4 linked regions of the Homo sapiens genome follow. The protein of the gene in region 2 interacts with the protein of the main gene of each other region in a pairwise test. Each region holds a gene or a part of one and is shown on either strand. Other genes may lie near its edges. The genes, in order: DDX6, PAK5, PDLIM7 and ATPAF2.

Region 1 (3,022 bases), on a different chromosome or scaffold from region 2:
CCCAACCATTGTAGGCCTAACACTTTTGGTCTGCAGTTGACTAAATGTGCAGACGTAAAACCCAGATACAGGGGACTGACTCTATTTTCTTAGTTATACTTAAGCATTTCTTTGGGTAGAGAGGTAGTGAGAGTGATGTGCTCAACTTTAAGTGTCTGCTTTTCCCAACTTTTATTTCCCAATCTTTTATTTCATCAGTGGTTTGTAGTTCTCAGCATATGAATTCCATTCATACTGTTAAGATGTAGTATGCCTTGGTTTTGGGGGTATGTTCAGCTTTACATTTGAGAACAATTGTAGGAGGTGGTAATTACTGATGTATTTGGACATATTATGGACCACATCTCCCCTCTTCCCAACCGATTATCTTGGTTCTCCATTTAGGCTGTGAAATCTGACAGCATGGTGGAACAGTATCTACAACAGATGAAGGGGCTCTGAATTCAACTGGGCTTCACAGGAATGATGGGTTGAGAAATGTCTGTTTCACAGTATGAATTACCTGAGCAAAATGCTCAGATTCCTATGCACACAGCTGCTACTAAGGACATACCACACACACATTTGGAGTTCCAGTGGGCTTTTATTGAGATAAATTAACAAAAACCAAGATTTTACCATATTTTTGGAACCTTATAAACTCAGCAGACTCCGGTCCATATATGCGTACATACAACATAACACATCCCAACAAAAACAGAGCCCCCCCCCCCCCCACTGGAACATCTGCCAATTAAGAGAAAGCCAATTTTCCCTTCCCCCAATGTTTCTGAAATTTTGAGTTCCCACTGTTCACTTCTCAGTGGAACTGGTCCCTTGTGGCTAGGGACATTGGAATTCTCTACCATTTTTACTGAACAAAAAATAATTTTTTTTCCTGTTTCAAAAAAGGGAATAGTGACTTTGTTTTCTCCAGGCTCCCCTTCCCACACAACCAATGTAAAATACAGCAGCCTGTATCTTAATAACCCAGCCCTACCCCCTCCCTTACCCAGCATTGTCTACTGGAGAATTTAAATACACTTCTGTTGGAATCTGTCAGCTGTGGATGGGCAGAGTCCAGGTGCCAGGCTAGCTCCCTCTGACCTCATGAACTGTGACAACCTTTGGACACTTAACTCTTTACCCCAAAGATGAGTTTTTAGATCAGAAAGGAGAGCAGATTTTCTTTGGGAGTTTTAAAAAACTATCTTTAGATTTAGAGATACAAAGTACAACTACAATCTCACAGAAGTCCACTAAAGTTCACCAAAAAGCTGACTTACTTCAGCTCTCATGAGGCCAATAATTTTGATAAAGGTATCTGGCAGGAAAATGATTCCACAATAACAAATTTAAAGATACCTAGAACATTGAAAAAAATAGCAAATTAAAATAAATGGCTTAATTTCCAAGAACTTATTTCATTTTTTTGTTACTCATCTAGAAGGTCAGGAGTGTGGCTAAAGGCAGTTTCTGATGAGGTTATGAGCTTCCAAAGTGTTTCTAAATCCTTAGTGCAGACACCCTCCCTTCTGGGGCAAAGTACCCTCCCTCCCACCCCTATTAAAAAAAAAAATTAAAAAATTAAACCACGTCATCAGAATGAGATGTTTTGATTCCAACAATTTATACTCAAGGCTTTGTGCTGAGTTGTCGTTTGAACCAAGCATGATGTTATCAAGCACAAAGCACGTGGCAAAGGAAAGATGCTCCCATCTCATTCTGAAAACAAATACTGATAACCAAGCCCACCCTCCAACCCTTTGGGGCCAACCCATTTTATGCTGCTGGGACCAACTTCAAACAATTTAGAGGTATATTTAGGTTTCCCTCTCTCTTACTTCTGTGAAAGATCATTTTAGAATAAATGTATTCCATTCCTATGGGAGAGGCAAAACAGTATTTATCCCCATCAGAATATATGGGGAAAGAAAAAACATAGGCCTAGAGGTGGTAAGGTGTGTAACAGTCCATAGCCCATTACACAACTGTACAACCAAAGGCTAAATGATGAGTTGGATGTAGTTTTAATATTAAAAATAGAGGGTAGTTCTCATCCAAATGAGCCACTGGAAAATATTATCATTACTTAAAAAAATACATATTTAATATTGGAAAGAATGTGAAAACAACTTCCAATAGTAACAATGCTTATTATGAGGGCCCAAAAAAGAAAGAAAAAAAAAAAAAAAAAAAAAAAGACCAGGCTTTGACCTAGTCCTCAGAGCATCTTTCCATTTAACAATTCCTATTCAAGAGTCAAGCACCAAAACTGGACAGCTGCCTCTACAAGACCGTGTCCAGTAGTGGTGTCCCAGATAGTTTAAGTGCCACTCCTCATTAGAGGCTATACTTCAGTAATACTTTCCATTTTAAGTCTGTGCTTTAAGAGGGACCCACAGGCATGTGGCACCACGCAGTCTAAAGTTGGTGAAGGAGACTGCACTTTTTGTTTAGTCACCCACACGTTCTCTAGCGAGATACAGAATTGCATTTATACTCTTTTCTTCTACATGAATGATCCCTCTTATCTCGCAAGAGGTGGGGGAGAAAGAGAGCTGCATCGGTACAAGGGCACAATTTTTTTGGTCAAAAGTTGACACCTTTTAAATTCCCTCTCCCACCCCTCCCTGGAAAAAAGTTACTTCCTTAATTAGGTTTTCTATTTAGTAACCAACATTGACTGGACAGAAAATATGAGGCTTGGGTTCCAAATAGATGAGCTTGTTCTTTTTTGGGTTTGTACCGTGCAGTTCTTGCTACAGTTGTTAAGGAGTTAGGGCTATGTCCCATCAGGAGGCATCTGTAGGATTTTGATCTCCAAGGAATTGTGGGTGAGTCGCAAATAGTTTGCTCAGAAGTAGGCAGAGTCAAAAAAGCAACTTCAAGTAATTGATTCCTTTGTCCAAAAGAGTTAAAACATTAAAGTATATGCGGGACTTATTTTGTAATATTTTAGGGTTTTGAAAAATAAAATATGGAAATCAATTTTTTTTAATTTTGTTTTTTGCTTTTTTCCCCCCCTTTCCAGATGCCTCCT
Region 2 (2,674 bases):
ATTGAAAGCTGGTTGTATGAGTCTGTTTTTACACTACTATAAAGAAATACCCAAGACTGAGTAATTTACAAATAAAGAAGGTTTAATTAACTCACAGTTCCACATGCCTGGAGAGGCCTCAGGATACTTACAATCATGGCAGAAGGCGAAGGGGAAGCAAGGCATGTCTTACATGGTGGCAGGAGAGAGAGAGCGCACAGGGGAAATGCCAGACACTTATAAAACTATCAGCTCTCATGATAATTCCCTCACTATCTTGAGAATAACATGGGGTAAACTGCCCCCATGACCCAATTACCTTCCACCAAGTCCCTCCCTTGACATGTGAGGATTACAATATGAGGTGAGATTTGAGTGGGCACAGAGAGCCAAACCCTATCACTGATTTAAGCTGAAGAGTGAAGGAAGCCCTTTCTAGGGAGGGATCAAACGAGCTGGGACCTGAATAGGAAGAAGGTACCAGCCATGCAAAGATCTTGGAGAAAAAGGTCCCAGGCACGGGGAGCATCAAGTGGAAAGGCCTTAAGCCAAGAAAGAAGGCTTACATTGCTGGAGTAAAGTCAGAAAGGGGAAAAAGGTAGGTCTTGTCAGAGAGATGGGCAGGAGCTAGATTGTACAGGGCAATGAAGGTCATGGTTAATATAATGCATGTAAGAGACCGAGTGGGGTCTTTTCTGTTTTCCAAGGATTGCCAATTAGGACGAGCTCAGAAAATAATGATGCTTCATCCAAGAATCACCACTGTAGGAGCTGCCAGATTTCCAAAGGACTTGCTCAGAGGATCATTTCTGCAGGACTACTACTATAAACACTGGCCCCATACACACCTCTCTTCCTATCTTATGACAATAAAAGAGAGTGTGTGGCTGCCTTTTGGAGGAGAATTATTTGTAATGGTAATATCTCCTCCTTCCTCACCCCTAAATCTTAGGGAACAGCCCCAGTAGCATCACTCATATAGGTTGTGTGGACCTACAAAAACATAAACAAAAAAAGAGAGATTGAAATTTTTACTGGATTGGACTAAGTCTAAATAATGAAAAGTGGCTGGGTGTGGTGGCTCACGCCTGTAATCCCAGCACTCTGGAAGGCCGAGGTGGGCGGATCACGAGGTCAGGAGATGGAGACCATCCTGGCTAACACGGTGAAACCCCATCTCCACTAAAAATACAAAAAATTAGCCAAGCATGGTGGCGGGTGCCTGTAGTCCCAGCTACTCAGGAGGCTGAGGCAGGAGAATGGCGTGAACCTGGGAGGCAGAGCTTGCAGTGAGCCCAGATCGCACCACTGCACTCCAGCCTAGGTGACACAGCGAGACTACGTCTCCAAAAAAAAAAAAAAAAGTGACTAAAAATGTATCATATGAAAGTAGTCTCACACCCAGTGAGTGCCAATGTTCTTCAAAACCATGTACAAGAACAACTTTAATCCTAATGGTTTCAAAAAAACTGGAAACCAGTCCGAGGTTGTTTCCCAAATGGATAATGTGTGGTATAATTGGACAGTGAATACTACACAGTAATTTAAAAGATATAACTTTTGCCACACGTCGGAGATGAATCTCACAGATACAACACTGAGTGAAAGAAGCCAGATAGAGAAGAAATCAAATATATGACTCCATTTTGGTAAAGTACAAAAGTAAGCAAAACTAAGTTATGCTATAAATTAAAATAGTGGTGACCTTTTGCAGGGAGATAGGGGTTGGCAGGAAGGAAACCTAAAAGTAGCTTCCTAGAGTGGTAGAAAAGTTCTATATCTTGATAGGAGTGGAAAGTAAATAGGGGTAAATGTATGTAAAAATCCATTGAGCCACACTCTTAGTATTTGTGCAGCGGAACCTGGGCATGCTGGCACATGCTTGTACTCCCAGCTACTCAGGAGGCTGAGGTGGGAGGATCATTTGAGCACAGGAGTTTGAGCCTGGGCAACATAGTGAGACCTCATCTCTAAATATATACATAAAGTAAGATATACCTTTAAAAGGAAAATTACAAGACCTTCAAAGAAAAAAATGAGATGTGTTCGATATCCTTACAGAAGCTTGTTTCTCTTAAAGAAAGGGGTTCCACAGAGCCTGTGTGGTTGCAGTTGTTAGAAAAATAAAACGGCTCCCTGTTTATACTATGCTTCATCAAGCACGTGTGACCAGCACCTGCACATACTAAATATTTTGTAATAGCTGCTCTTATCACTGTGATTGCCACTGTTATTTTATGTAGTAAATAAGTTTTCATTCTTAGTTGAGCTGTCATTTACACCTATTATTTCACACTTGAAAAAGGTAAGGAAAACACGAAATGTTAACAAAGACAAGACATGCTTTTGCTTTCACAACATCTTTCTCCTTAAGGTAACTTTCTGGAATTTGAAGTTGTTGATAGGATGAATGGGGAAAACATTTTGGGGACTGGGTTAGGTGTCTGTGTTAGTCCTCAGATTGGTATCTGTGTGTTTTCACAGGTTTCTTCAGTGCTCCGGGGATTCCTAGACTTGATGTTGGTGAGGGAGCCCTCTCAGAGAGCAACAGCCCAGGAACTCCTCGGACATCCATTCTTAAAACTAGCAGGTCCACCGTCTTGCATCGTCCCCCTCATGAGACAATACAGGCATCACTGAGCAGAGGATTCGTGTAGGTGGCAAAGCTAGATGAGGACATGAGAATAATTCAGGA
Region 3 (4,039 bases), on a different chromosome or scaffold from region 2:
TGAGTCAGCCTGAGCAGCCCAGCCCCCCAGTCCCAGACGTTACCTCATCTCCCAGGCCTGGGCCCACAGCCAGCCCTTGCCCCTCCCACCTCCCTCCATTCTGGGGTCAGGGGAGGGGGAGGGGGCTGGCCTAACTCAGAAAAGCCCACCTCACCCACCCATGTGGGCCCAGGTCCAACTCCAGGGCTGGGATCAGCTAGTGGCCCCGCCCACATGCCAGGGATGCTGACCAGGGAGCTGGAGCCCGGAGTGCCCCCAACAGGCCATATCTGAAAGTCATCTCCATCAGGGAAGAAACTGAGGTTCAGGCTCCCCAGACACACTGGGCCAGCACTTTCCCAGGGAGCAGGACGTCAGGTAGGTTTCAGGGCTGTGTGAGGGCTATGTAGTGGGACGTGTGTCATAGGGCAACCACTGCCTCACTACCCTGCTGGCGGGGCAGGTTCCAGGAGAATGCCATCAAAGGACCCCTGAGAAGAGCACTGCTGGCCTGCCCACCCTAACCCCCACGCCCAGCTCCTACAGACAGACTCCAGCTTGAGCCCCTCCTCAGGCCACGACCCTCTGGGCCCCTCCAGGCTGGGCTTGCCTTGGGCTTCCTGACAACAGCTGCCTGCCCACCCGGCGCCTGGGTGGGTCTCTTGGGGCAGGCGGATATAGGGGCAGGAAGTCCCCACCCCCTCCTGACCCCCAGGCCAGTCAGAGATGCCAGCCGACAGGCTGGCCTCACCCACTCTGGGCAGGCAATTTGTTGTGTCTCACAACTGGACCATATAGCTGGAGCTGCAGCCTGGTGACCAGCTGAGAGGCCCACCAGTGGGGTTCAGGGGGCCAGGCCTAGGCCAGCCCTTTTCAGCTCTGCAGACCGCAGCCACTGTTGGCCATCCCAGCGTGGGGCTGCATTCTTGGGCTTATAAGGCAATCCCCCTGCTACAGGGAGGAGCCAGCCTCCAGCTCCACCCACACCAGGGCAGGCTCTTGGAAGCTGAAGTTAAGCCCCTAGAATGGAGCCCTGTCCTACACTTCTGCTTGGGGTCAAAGGCCACCACATCCTGAATGGGAACAGTGGATGTGGGTCCTTACATAGGCTGGGGAGAGACCCCTTCTACCCACAAAAAATGTACGCCATGCTGTGCCTCAATTCCAATCCCTGCTTCACCATGGACTCGATGAGCGAGCCCCGCCACCTCTCCATGAGTTCTTCTCTCATCTGGAAAAACGGGATGAGGATTGCTATTCCCTGGGCGGCAGTGAGGCTGAAGTGAAATCCTATAGTCACAGTGTCCTGCCTGGGGCCTGGCTCCAAGCATTGCCACCTCAAGTTTAGATACCTCCTGAAATGTTAGGCTCCCATCCTGCACAATGAGCCTCCCTCCAGCCCTCAGAGGTGGCCACAGGAGCTTGGGAGAACAGCATCGGGTACAGTGCAGGGCTGGAGAAGCCTGGGTGCTCCCTCCCAGTATCCACCTCATTGGGAGTCCTTGTGGCAGGCAGGTACCACTACATCTCCGGACCTAGACATCTCCTGGCCTGCTGGCCCCTGACCAGCTCCTGTTAGGACTCCCCCCATCACCCTCTGGAGACCTAAGCACCGAAAGACCGCTGGGGGAGCCCCCTCCCCAAACCTAGGCTCACCCGGGAAATGGAGAGGGGCACATTGAAGTCCTTGCCCCCTTGCAGCCGGAAGCCCCAAGGTGCTGGCCCCTCCAGCACTACTTTGAAGGAATCCATGATGCCGGCTCCTGAGAGGAGAGAAGAGAAGGTGAGTGGCCAGCATGGTGGGCGGGCAGGCAGGCAGGCCGGGCCAGCTCAGGATACCAGCCTTGGACAGGGGCCAGGCAGGCACGGGCAGCCCCTGAGCACGCCCAAGCCATAGGAGGCAGGTATTTTGTCAGGCTGGCCTGGGCTGCTGGCTGGCGGACCTCACTTTGGAAAGACAGGAGCAGCCCCCCTCCCCTTGGGACTGGAACGGTGAGGGGTGCCTGAATCCAGGCTTGAGGTTCTTTGCAACCAGGGGTGGGCCGAGGGACTAAACTGGCGCGGCCTCCCCCCAAGCCAGCCTGGAGCCTCGGGCGGCCGGGTGAGTCAGGGGCCGGCTCTCCTCTCCCCCGCCCCCAGGTCCCGGCAGGCAGGCCGCGGCTGGAGCCTGCTCGGACTATATAAGGCGTGTAAGCTGACACTGTGCGGAGAGCCAGCGGAGGGAGCACACGGGGGCTTGGGACGCGAGGGGGGGGGGAGGGGAGGGGAGGGGAGGGGAGGGGAGGGAGGCGGCTGCAGCGGATCCTCCTAGCCATTCCGGGACCAGTCGAGGCTGCTGGGAGCCAGGGCGGGACCCCTGGGTGCTGAAGAAGGGGAAGGCGGGAGTGGGGTGCGGCCCCTGTGGAGACAGATGGGGGCTGGGACCCTCAAGCATAGCTTGGAGGGGGATCCTTCCCCGAGCCCAGTGGGGGGTGGTGCCTCCCACACAGAACTGCTCCCACACCGACGTGACTCAGTTTCCCCTTAGTCCCCCGCCCGGGCCCCATGCATTAGACTGGCCCCGGCCGCAGGAAGCGGCGCAGGCGCCAATCGGCCCCGCCGCAGCCGGCTTAGCGGCAGGAAGGCGGGGGCGGGGGCGGAGGCAGGGGCCAGGGCCAGCGGGAGGAAGCACAGCCTGGACCACGACCCCCAGTGCCCTTTGTGGTCCTCAGCAGGCCCCGGGCGCCCGCCTGGTGCAGCCCAAGACGCCCCGCGCGGTCGTCGATACCTGCTTGGCCCGGCCAGGGCGCTGCTCTGCGTCGGGCTCCAGGGAGCCTCGTTGGGATCGGCCGCCAGTGTTCTGACCCCGCCCCCACAGCCACCCTCCACTTTGAGCGCGCGGACGGGGGCGGGGCACCAGGCCACGCCCTCGTCGCGACCACGCCCACTAGACTTTCTCCGCTGGTGGAAAGCCCCACCCAGCTCTTCCGTCCTGCCCAATCACCAAGTCCCGTCGGGCTTAGAGCTGAGAGGCCTCGCCGACCCGGGCCCTGCAACGGGGCGGAGTCGGGAGGGGGCCGGGGCTGCGGGTCGCCTCCTTAGGGAAGCGCTGCCTCGCCCAGTCCCTCGCACCGCCCGCTGGCGGAGGGAGAGGAAAGCGGACCTTCAAACCAGACCGACCTGGGACATAGTAGTCTCTGAACCTTAGTTTGCTACTCCGAAAAATGGGACGATCATACTCGCCTCGCAGGGCTGCCGCGAGTGTCGGTATCGTAGGCGCAACCCTCGGGGACTGCAGAATCTGTAAATCAGAGGGGCTGGGGGAGACAAGTTGAGGGGGACAGGGGCGTTTAAAGCTAGAGTTGCGCAACGCTCTGCCGAAGGCAGGAAAACAGGGCAGGAGCGGACGCCGGATGTCCCTGCAACCCCGAGCCGACCCGCGCACCGTCGGAAGCGCCGCGTCCCGCTCCACCTTGGCCAGAGCGGACTGCGCCGCCTGGGAGGCGTCCTCAGAGTCCCGGCCCCGCGTTCAGCCCAGGCACTAGGGCCGGCGGCACGGACACTGAGCACATGCGGGTGTCGGGGTGAGGGAAGGGGCGTCCACCCTCCACTCGCTTGGTGGTCCCGGCCCATCACCTCCTCCTAGGACAGAGTCGCTGCAGTTCTCCCCTCTCCATCCACAGTCATCACACCCACCCTGTTCTGCACAAACCGCCGTGAGAGTTCTCGTCGTTAAAGACCTTCTCTTGACCCCACATCCCTCTCCAGCTACTACCCTTTAATTCTCCTCTCGAGAGTAAAATTCCTCCAGGGAGTTGTCTGTTTATCGCGTCTCCACTTGCTTTCCTTCAGTTATCTCTTGAAGCCATGCCAGGCGGGCTCTTGTCCGCACCCGTCCCCTGAGATCTCTCTTCTCAAGGTCCCCTGTGGCCTGGAGGCCATGGGGCCATGGAATCCGTGGTGGTTAAGTTTCATCCTGCCCTGCCTAGGGGCAGCACTGGTCCAGGTTGATCCTTTTCCGCGAAACACCCTTTTTCCCTGGCTTCACAGCTTCCCCCTGCCCCACTGGCCCCTCCTTCCC
Region 4 (3,571 bases), on a different chromosome or scaffold from region 2:
AACGCCCACTCCATTTATATTAGGGTTCACTTGATTGCAGGGAGCAGAAACCCATTCAACCTAGCTCAGACAAAAAGGGGATTCTTGAAAACTATACAGGGATCCTGACAGGAAATGAAGGACAGTTGGGTCACCAGGAAAGGTAGCTGGAAGATCCAATGTCAGAGCTCCTCCCTGTGCCCTACTAGGGTGAGAGGAAGGTGAGGGAGGAAAGGCTGGTTGTCCATCTGCCCCTCCCAGCACCCCAGCTTTTCCTGCATAACTCATGACCTCTCTTCCCCACTTTGCTTACACAAGACAGTGGATTTCCATAGTGCCCACTTGGATTCCCATCCCATGAGGCCCTGCAGCTCAGCTCCTCTCAACTGGCTCATGTCTGTGTCTCTTGGTCAAACAAATGGCACAGCCTGACCTCTAGCTTGGTCCCATCAGGTCTGGCATCTGTGCCAGCAGCTGCATCTGTAGCCAGGAGGTGGGTGGACTTATGAGGTATAAACAGGCTATTTGGTCTGTGACCAGGGGCACAGTCTCTTGGAGGGGGTGAGGGTAGAGATGCAAAGACTGAGCATCTGGCACAGCATTCCCATTCAGCATCTGGGTCAAGCGGGTGTGGACCCAGGGTTGCAGTTAGTAGATTGGATCTGCTTTAGGATGGCAGTAACAGTGTGGCAAGCTTGGACCTGTCAAATATTTGGGGGCATTTAGGGTAGTGGTTCTCAAACTCAAGCTTACACTAGAATCCCCTAGAGGGCTTGTTAAAACAGATTGCTGGGCCCCCCTCCAGAGGTTCTGATTTCTGTAGGCATGCAACCTGAGAATGTGTATTTCTAACAAGTTCCCAGGCGATGCTGGTGCCAGGGCCACACTTTGAGAACCACTGCTTTAGGGGAAAAGACTTGTGGGGCTGGGATGGTGGTGGTGAAGTTTTTGCTGTTGTCCTTTGTGTTTTTCCTTTTCTATCACTGAATGAAGGAATTGTACTTTTTTATTAATGAAGGTTATTTTTACAATGAATTAGCTACAGGGTGGAGGAGCCCGAGACATTAGTGGAACTTCAAAGGAATGAGTGGGATCCAATCATCGAATGGGCTGAGAAAAGGTAAGATGTACAGCCCTGCAGAAAGCACTGACTGGGCACCTGCGTTTGGTGGAGTGTAGGGGTCAGGGGGTCACGCTGGAAAACTAGTGCCCTTAGCTAGTCAGCTTTCTGATTTCAGAGCACTCGTGGGATTTGGCTCCCCTCATATGATCAGGGATAGGGTCATCCTGGGAAAAAAGCACCTCAAATTTAATTTCAGCCACTAGGTACAGCACACCTGCTGTAGCGGTTCATGAAGTGTAGGGGCAGCTCTGTGTCCTTGGAGAAGCAGTGGAGTTCCCAGGCCACCTTCTGCCAGCGGGTCAGAGCAGCAGTGTCGGTTTGAATCCCAGCTCTGCTGAAGACTCAGCTGTGTGACTTGGCTAATGAGTTGATCTCTCTGAGCTTCAATTTTCTTGTCTATAAATGGGGCTAATAATCCCTACCTCTCAGGGTTTGAGGAGGAATAAATGAATTGATGCATGTAAAGGCTTAGCATCCTGCTTATTAGCACACAGTAAATGTTCAAATTTTGGCAGTGATTTTAATCTTTGTCACAATTGCTGTACTATTAAATAAAATAACAGAACAACATATACGATATGTATGCACTTGGAGAAAAGTCTGGATAGCTTCCTGCAAAATTACGGGTAACATCCAATGGATATGTAGCTTCCAGGAATTGATATGAAATATTTTTCTTTAATAGGAAGACTCTTGAGTGCAAAGTTGAATGGATTATTGATGTGGTGGCAAAATAAATTCAATTTCATTTGATCCCAAGGGAAATTTGGAAGGGCTGGCTTTCATGGTACTACCTTGACTGTGGTATTTTCTAAGCTTGCAAGGCACATTTCTTGGTATAGCAGTTTTCCACAAAAGTGATGTTACCAATCAGTTCACTGATTTGCCACATGCTGCCCGATGCTCACAATGTGGCAGGTGTCCTTGGGTCTTAAAAGAGAAGGCAAAGGCAGTGCTCTAAAGACCAGACTACAATACTATGTGGGAATGTGACAAAACAGTGTCATTTCAGAATCTAATGAAATGTAATAATAATTTAGGTGCCTAGAGATCTTTGCTATAGTATAAAATCATCAGATTCTTGTGGCAGGAAATACCTCATCCTTAAGAGTTTATAGAAAAACTTAGCCATTTCTTACAGTCCATTTGTACTATTAGGAATTTCAGCAAGGATTTTTTATTTTTTCTTTCTTGAGATGGAGTCTCGCTCTGTCGCCCAGGCTGGAGTGCAGTGATGCGATCTTGGCTCACTGTAACCTCCACCTCTTGGGTTTAAACGATTCTCGTGCCTCAGCCTCTCAAGTAGCTGGGATTACAGGCGCCCACCACGCCCAGCTAATTTTTGTGTTTTTAGTAGAGATGGGGTTTCACCATGTTGGCCAGGCTGGTCTCGAACTCCTGACCTCAAGTGATTGCCCACCTCATTCTCCTGAAGTGCTGGGATTATAGGTGTGAGCCACTGCACCCAGCAGGATTTTTTTTTTTTTTTTTTTGAAAGGAGTCTCGCTCTGTCACCCAGGCTGGAGTGCAGTGGCGTGATCTCAGCTCACTGCAAGCTCCGCCTCCCAGGTTTTATGCCATTTTCCTGCCTCAGCCTCCCAAGTAGCTGGGACTACAGGCATGCACCATCTACACCCGGCTAATTTTTTTTGTATTTTTAGTAGAGACGGCGTCTCACCGTGTTAGCCAGGATGGTCTCAATCTCCTGACCTCGTGATCCGCCCGCCTCGGCCTCCCAAAGTGCTGGGATTACAGGCATGAGCCACCGCGCCCGGCCCCAGCCGGATTTTTTTAAGCAACAGAAAAAAATCAGTGATATATGGAAGAAAATTACAAAAATTATTTTTATCCCCCATTGTGTTTTTCTGTTTTATTTAGTTATGATTATTCTTGAAAATGTATCTTCTCAGCCAGGCGCAGAGGTCAGGAGGCGGAGGTCGCAGTGAGCCGAGATCATGCCACTGCACTTCAGCCTGGGGTAGAAAGCAAGAAAGACTTCATCTCAAAAAAAAAAAAAAAAAAAAAAGTTTGAAAAAATGACTGCTGACTGGTCATGGTGGCTCATGGCTGTAATCCCAACACTTTGGGAGGCTGAGGTTGGCAGATCGCGTGAGTCCAGGCGTTTGAGACCAGCTCGAGCAACATGGTGAAACTCTGTCTCTACAAAAAAAATTAGCTAGGTGTGGTGGCACATGCCTGTAGTCCCAGCTACTTGGGAGACTGAGGTGGGAGGATCGCTTGAGCCTAGGAGGTCAAGGCTGCAGTGAGTCAAGATCATGCCAGCGCACTCCAGCTTGAGTGACAGAGCGAGACCCTGTCTCAATAAAAAAGAAAACCTCCATGATATATGACATAAACATTATTTTAAGGAAAACCATTTTAAATATTGTTTTTAACTTTTATATGTCCTCAAATGTGAAAAACTTTAAAGAGATGTAAAAGGCAGATGGCCTTTTGATGGAGATTCCA

What was found.
Region 1: the proteins of PAK5 (region 2) and DDX6 interact in a two-hybrid assay, tested with the Homo sapiens proteins (one large-scale study listed by BioGRID and IntAct).
Region 3: the proteins of PAK5 (region 2) and PDLIM7 interact in a two-hybrid assay, tested with the Homo sapiens proteins (2 studies listed by BioGRID and IntAct).
Region 4: the proteins of PAK5 (region 2) and ATPAF2 interact in binary tests that used the Homo sapiens proteins (3 or more experiments, as listed by UniProt).

The regions. Positions count from the first base shown.
Region 1 is NC_000011.10:118,747,200-118,750,221, forward strand, and holds the end of DDX6 (probable ATP-dependent RNA helicase DDX6), read right to left. Parts: 3' UTR 564-3,022; downstream 1-563.
Region 2 is NC_000020.11:9,539,407-9,542,080, reverse strand, and holds part of PAK5 (serine/threonine-protein kinase PAK 5), read left to right. Parts: intron 1-2,463; coding exon 2,464-2,619; 3' UTR 2,620-2,674.
Region 3 is NC_000005.10:177,494,782-177,498,820, forward strand, and holds the start of PDLIM7 (PDZ and LIM domain protein 7), read right to left. Parts: upstream 2,824-4,039; 5' UTR 2,747-2,823; intron 1,743-2,746; 5' UTR 1,732-1,742; coding exon 1,636-1,731; intron 1-1,635. UniProt on the Homo sapiens protein: May function as a scaffold on which the coordinated assembly of proteins can occur. May play a role as an adapter that, via its PDZ domain, localizes LIM-binding proteins to actin filaments of both skeletal muscle and nonmuscle tissues.
Region 4 is NC_000017.11:18,022,152-18,025,722, reverse strand, and holds part of ATPAF2 (ATP synthase mitochondrial F1 complex assembly factor 2), read left to right. Parts: intron 1-1,018; coding exon 1,019-1,099; intron 1,100-3,571. UniProt on the Homo sapiens protein: Plays a role in the assembly of the F1 component of the mitochondrial ATP synthase (ATPase).